2 linked regions of the Homo sapiens genome follow. The protein of the gene in region 2 interacts with the protein of the main gene of each other region in a biochemical or structural test. Each region holds a gene or a part of one and is shown on either strand. Other genes may lie near its edges.

Region 1 (2,696 bases), on a different chromosome or scaffold from region 2:
CGTTTTCACAAGCCTTAAAATTTGACCAAATAAACTTTTTTTCTGCTTCATGCATTTTTCCCAGCATCGGTTGCATCACATCTTAGTAGATTCCACTTCAGGTTGTACTGTTTATCAACTTTTTTGAAAATATTCCCACTTGTAGTTCCATACAAATTCTTCGATCACTTCAAATCCAGCAATGGTTTCTCAAAAAATAAAGCTAGGCAGTACTGACTAGTAAGAGGCAAAGAATTAACAGTGTCATTTGATGTTGTGTCCAAAATCCTCATTCTTCAAACTACTGTTCTCATCAAAGGGCTGATGTCTTAATTTTCTCTGGACACATGTCTTTGGGTTGGTTACTATCTTCAAGCACGATGTAATTCAGCATTAGTAAATGGTTTTCTTTGCTTGGCTAACAAATAGGCTACTTGTAAACATTTTGGTTGCAGCCTCATTTTTATTACTTTTGTGAAATTTTGCTGTGATGTTTCATTTAAATTTTCTAATTCTTCTGACTGTTGCTTTCCCACCAGTTGGGAATATTGTGATGTTAGTCTGATACTGTCAGTCTATTCTTTTACCAGTTATGGTGACACTGCATTATAAACACAATGTACCAGCATATAATAAAATAGTCCATATTCCAATGTGCCTTGAAAGTGTAACATTCAAAGGTACTTTTCTTGTTCTGAGATACAGGGCATGAACTGGTAGCAGAAAAAGTAATAAATCTAGCAATACACAGGGCATTCCAAATGCTTTCAGGTAATATCTGCATCACCATGATTCTGTAGCTTGCCAAGCGGCAATGTGAAACAAGACACACATACACAGGTTCTGTAGCAGCTACTCAACTTTCCCATTATAGCAAAAAAGTATCCATAGATAATATGTAAATTAGTGTGGCTGCATTCCAATAAAAACTTATAGACACTAAAATTTGAATTTCATGTAATTTTCAGATGTCAGGAAATAATCTTTTGATTATTTTTCCCAACCATTTAAAAGCCATTTTCAGTTCATGGGCCACACAAAAACAGGCAGCAAGCTGATTCTGGCTACGGGCCATAGTTTGACAACCCTTGCTCTAGTAGATTTAACAGAATATATGAGCCTGTAATTAATTAATGGCTCAGTAACACTAAAATATCAGCCAAATATCTTACATCTGGAACCTAGACTTTACAAACATTGAGACTGTCTGGAACAAAATAAAAAAGTAAAACTTAGACCCAGTAAAAGTCAAAATGTTCCTCTACAAAAGTTACACTATACGGTTGCTCAACCTACAATGAGGTTACATCTGAAAAAATACTAAGATGCATTTAATGCAGGCAACAGCATACAGTCCCCCAATTTACGATGGTTCAAGTTATAAATTTTGACTTTGCAATGGTGCAAAAGCAATACACATTCAGTAGAAACTATAACCCCATCTTTGGTCCTAAGGCGCTCCTAAACTTTTGATGGGGTTACCTCTCAATACACCCACTGTAAAGTTGAAAAATCATTAAGTCGAAAGTAAGTTAGGGATTATCTATACTTTTTAGGGACAGAAGCCAGAAATGATACAAGTTATGAGATTGAGCAACTATGTGGCTAATAAAAAGGCAATCTTTATCATTCCTATTTGAAATCCAGCATTGATTTCTCAAATAGTTGAACAGAATTTAAATATTAGTTTTCTCAGCTAACAAATCACAAGCGAAAAGAAGCTTCACTTCCTTTTTAACGAAGACAAAAGAAGCCAGTTAGAAACTTACTACATTGTGTTAGATTTTTTAAAAAGCCACAGTTATACCAAATGTATTTACTTTGTGAAGTATATCCTTCGGAATAAATGCATTCCTGGAAAGGAGAAACAGAAGTCAGTCCTTAATTAGCTAGTTGAGGTACTCATAAAGAACAAGAATAAGCCAACACTTGAAATGCAGAAAACTCAGACTGATTTTTCAATTAATGGACTAATAATCATCTAGGGTTAATGAAGGAAGTTACTGAATTCTGTTGAGTTGCCCAAATAAAAATGAACAATATCCCCCAAATAAGTATTTCCAAAAGAAAATCACCAGTCATCAACATTTATAAGAAAACATTTTGAAGCCTTTATTTACAAAAGCTTTAAAAACAAATAATACCCTCTGTTTTGCAAATAATGTTTTGTTTAAAAAGGACCACCCAGTTACAGCACTGTAATATCATGAATAAAGAATGTACAAGGGAGACAAACCAATGTGACTAACATTTGGAGATTTGCTAATATTACTGATTGAAGTGTAGGTAACACACATTATAACTTGTAGTCCATCATTTCGGGGTAGAGTTAATGATTACCGTAAAGTCTTCCTACACATGCTCTGGTCTGGTCACATATTCTGCATGGCTAAGTATTTCACAGTCTCTTTTGTCAATATATATAAAATAGATTGCAAAGATATACACAAAAAAATAAGCATTACACTCCTCAGGTAATTTTATCAGCTATATATATATATATGAGAATATATATATATTTTGTTGTTTTGTACCAAATCTCTCCATTATTTACCTTTGTAGCAACTATGAAAGCACAATTTTTGTCTTCTAATTTAATTTGGTACAAAATATACCTAAAGACTTATCTTTGGATTTTTAATAAAATTGATTTGTGTAACCAACAAATCAAGAGCATCATAAGAATGGCTACAAAATTTAAAAAAAAAAAAAGGGTA
Region 2 (4,473 bases):
TTGAGAATATTCAGTCGGTCAGAAGGCATGAAAGGAAAAACAAATATCAAAGAGATTGTAAGGCAGTGTGTACTAAGGATCCAATGAGAGGGGAGCATTTCTTGCAGGTTAAAAGTGTTCTGAGGAAGGAGAGAGGTGATTAGGTGGGCAGATGCTTCCTTCATCTCCATCTCTAGCTGTGTTTCCTTTTTCACAAAAAAGAATGTATCTGTCTTTACCCATAGTGCTCTCTCCAGGAAATCAAGGCATTGTATTCATTGAGTAACCATTTTTTGAGCATTTTCGATATTTCAACTGTGGGACTGGGCACTAAGCCAGGGAAGAATGTAAGTAGTTAAATTTATTGATTGCTTACTATGTGCCTGGCACACTTTTCCTAAGATTTTACATGGACTCATCTGATCCTTGAAAAACCCTGTGAGGTAGGTAGTATTGTTATCTCCGTTTTACAGATGGAGAATTTGATGTATAAAGAGGTTAAGTAACTTGGAGGAGACCATATCACTGGTAATTGGAGTAACTTTTTAGGCTTCGAACTTGCAAAATTTGAAAATTTCTTTTGGTAGGCGGGACCCACAGATGCATGCAATACTTCTAGATCAGTTTTTTCATCTGGGCACTTGACATTTTGGACCAGATAATTTATTATTTTGAGGGTTGTTCTGTGCATCACAGGATGTTCAGCATCCGCAGTAGCACTCCCCGTCCAGTTGTGACAATCACCAATGCTTCCAGATATTGCTAGATGTCCCTGGGAGTGGCGCAGAATCGACCCTGGCTGAGAACCACTGCTCTAGATCTTCATTAGGAATTGTAACGTGAAAGCCTCCAAACTTTTAGATGTTGAGTTAATTTAAACATCTTTTGGTCGAGTGCTGTGGCTCACACCTATAATCCCAGCACTTTGGGAGGCCAAGGCAGGTGGATTGCTTGAGGTCAGGAGTTCGAGACCAGCCTGGCCAACATAGTGAAACCTCATTTTTACTAAAAATACAAAAATTAGTTGGGCGTGGTGGCATGCGCCTGTATTCCCAGCTACCCGGGAGGCTGAGTCAGGAGAATTACTTGAACCCTGGGAGCGGAGAGCCGAGATTGTGCCACTGCACTCCAGCCTACTTGACAGAGTGAAACTCTGTCTGAAAAAAGAAAAAAAAATCTTTTAATAACATGGAAGCCTAGACCCTATTATGTAGATCCTCAATTTGGAAGCCCTGGTTTCTGAATGTCAAAGATGTGTTGCCATTCTCCTTTTCCTCTGCTAAGCTGCAAATCCTCAAGACAGTGTGCCTGGTAGCCAGTGCCAGTTAAACAACATTGGCACAAATAATAAATTTAGTTTACTATCATAGGTAAACTGTCTTTTAAAATTCACAGTTGGCCATTAAAATTGTCACATTATGTTAGTATCATGGGAGCCATAATATCTACATGAGGGCGATTACCATTAGAACTGAACTTTGAAGAATGGAATCAGTTTTGAAAGGCAGATAAAAGGGCATTGTAAGAACAACAACAGAAGTAAGGACACAAAAATCCAGAAAGTACAGGAGATTTTGATATTGCAGTGGGTAGTTCAGGTTATATAAGGTATTTGTAGCAAACTGGTTAAGGCCAGATATAGAGGTTCTTGAATGTCAGGTTGAGGAACTTGTGCATAAATTTTTAGGTATGGGAGCTATTGCATGCTTTTTGTTGCGTACTGATGTGATAGAATAATCTTCTGGTCTGGGATTACTAACCAGGTGTATTTATGGGAGAAAACTAGCGATCTAGGCAAGAAGCGATGGAGGCCTGAATTGAAGTGGTGGCAAAAAGAGGTGAGTGAGGCTGGACCCAGTGGCTAACGCCTGTAATCCCAGCACTTTGGGAGGCCAAGGCAGGAGGATTGAGCCCAGGAGTTTGAGACCAGCCTGTGCAACATGATAAGACTCTGCCTCTACAAAAGAATTTTAAAAAATTAGCTGGGTGTGGTGGTGTGCACCTGTAGTCCCAGCTACTTGGGAGGCTGAGGTGGGAGGTTTGCTTGAGCCCAGCAGTTTGAGGCTTCAGTGAGCTGAGTTTGTGCCACTGCATTCCAGCCTGGGAAACAGAGTGCAACCCTGTCTCAAAGCAAAAAGAGAGAGAAAGGAAAAAAAAGATGAGTGTATAAGATACTGAGGAAGTTAAGAATCTGGGATTTGACAGCTGATTAGGTGTCAGAGGAGTCAAAAATACATAGGAATCTTCATCATGGGTGAATGAGAGTTTGACCCAACCTCTGAACAGAACAAGTCAGAGCAGAAATAGGAGTTTGGGGAGAGAAGATGCTAAGTTACATTTTGCAGTTGTAAAAAAAAAATCTACCAGTACTGGTCTAGACCAGTAGAACTCAGCTGGTCTAGTCTGAAAAAATATTTTGGAGGCCAGAATCATAGAATCATTGAATATTTAGAGCTGGACTATGACTTTAGATAGAGATCAGCCAGCATTCTGACTTCTTCATTTCTCAAGTGAGAAAGCTGTGGTTGAAACAGATTCAGTAACTTACGCAAGTTTATATTCTCTGTCAAGTGACCCAGCTGGGATTTAAACAGGCCTTTTGACTCTAATTCTAGTATTCCTCCCATGTGCAGTATTTTATTTTATATTGCACAATAGATAAAATATAATTTTGGTTTCTCCTTTTTTATTCTAAAAGAGTAAAAGCAGTTATCTCAATATGTTATGTTCATTCTAGTGATGACTTTACTATCATGTACTAAATGTGTTTTGTTTAAAGTAGAAGTTAACTTCACGTTATACTGATTTGTCCCCCCATAAACCAACTGTATGTCATCATATAACAAAAGTTGTTAAAAGTGCTATATACCATATAATGTTGCATCTAAACTGGGACACTTATCTGAGATGCTTTTGCGTGGGACAAATGCTATATTAGAAATGACTAGGACTGGCCAGGTGCAGTGGCTCACACGGGTAATCCCAGCACTTTGGGAGACTGAGGCACGTGGATCATTTGAGGTCAGGAATTCAAGACCAGCTTGGCCAACATGGTGAGACCCCGTCTCTACTAAAAGTACAAAAATTAGCTGGGTGTGATGGCATGTGCCTGTAATCCCAGCTACTTGGGAGGCTGAGGCAGGAGAATCTGAACCTGGGAGGTGGAGGTTGCAGTGAGCCGAGATTGTGCCACTGCGCTCCAGCCTGGGCAACAGAGTGAAACTCTGTTTCGAAAGAAAGAAAAGAAATGACTAGGACAGCAGGAGTAAAACCCCAAGGCATTAGGTCTCCGTAGCTAAGGTGGATCCCACTCATGCAATTCATCAACCTTTGTCTGAAAAAAAAGAAAGAAAATCTGATTTTGTTAAGCTTTTCTTTTGCTTTGCTGTGATACGGTTTGCAGGCCAACACATGCATATTGCTATAGGTTGGTGCGAAAGTTAATTGTGGTTTTTGCTCATTTTTAATGTACCAACCCAATATGCTTTTTTTCCAGCTTAATTTGGCAATTAGGTGGTAAATCACTTGATAGGATAAATTAATCACAATCTGTAAACTTAATTTAAAAATGTGTAACAACCCTCTGTGGAAAATTTGAATATAAACATCAAAAGAATACCATTCTGTAAGCTCTTTTGATTTTTGGCATCTGAAATGTCTGAAAGTATAAATTGCAAAACATATTTACAATTTTAATGACAACTGCAAAAGTATTGCCCATGATTGGAAAGACTAAAATGGTATGCGTTATATGTATTCTGTTCAGGCTGATGCATGATAAATCTCTCACTGAAAAAACAGAAATCCCTATCTCATTTTAAAATTTTAAAAAATTGGCCGGGCACAGTGGCTCATGCCTGTAATCCCAGCACTTTGGGAGGCCGAGGTGGGCAGATCACTGGAGGTCAGGAGTTCAACACCAGCCTGACCAACATGGTGAAACCCCATCTTTACTAAAAATACCAAAATTAGCCTGGTGTGGTGGCACATGCCTGTAATCCCAGCTACTTGTGAGGGTGAGGGAGGAGAATCGCTTGAACCTGGGAGGCGAGGGTTGCAGTGAGCCGAAATTGCGCCATTGCACTCCAGCCTAGCCTGGGCACAAAAGCAAAACTCTGTCTCAAATAAATAATCAATCATTCTAACCTTAAGCAAAATTGGAAAAATGTTGCAACTAATACCTGTATCTCTTTACCTAGTTTTAGTGATTATTAATATTTTGCCACATTTGTTCTATCGTGACATTGCACACCAAAGTATGGCAGTAGGTATCTCACAGAATAAGGGCATTCTACCTGACAGCAATCAAATGATCACCCACAGGAAGTTTAACTTTACAATTCTGTCTGGTCCCTATTCAGATTTTCCCAATTTTCTCAAAATTTTTTTTAAAGTTGTATTTGTTCTTTCACTCAATTGCTGTATCCTGGGTTGCATTTAGTTGTGTCTGAAGTTTCTCTTACATTAGGAGCATTTTCCTGCCCTTTTCTGCTT

The links. Proteins that work in one complex are often made in the same cells at the same time.
Region 1: the proteins of TNRC6A (region 2) and CNOT7 form a complex in vitro, tested with the Homo sapiens proteins (one study listed by BioGRID).

What each region holds. Positions count from the first base shown.
Region 1 is NC_000008.11:17,227,162-17,229,857, forward strand, and holds part of CNOT7 (CCR4-NOT transcription complex subunit 7), read right to left. Parts: 3' UTR 1-2,696. UniProt on the Homo sapiens protein: Has 3'-5' poly(A) exoribonuclease activity for synthetic poly(A) RNA substrate. Its function seems to be partially redundant with that of CNOT8.
Region 2 is NC_000016.10:24,732,069-24,736,541, forward strand, and holds part of TNRC6A (trinucleotide repeat-containing gene 6A protein), read left to right. Parts: intron 1-4,473.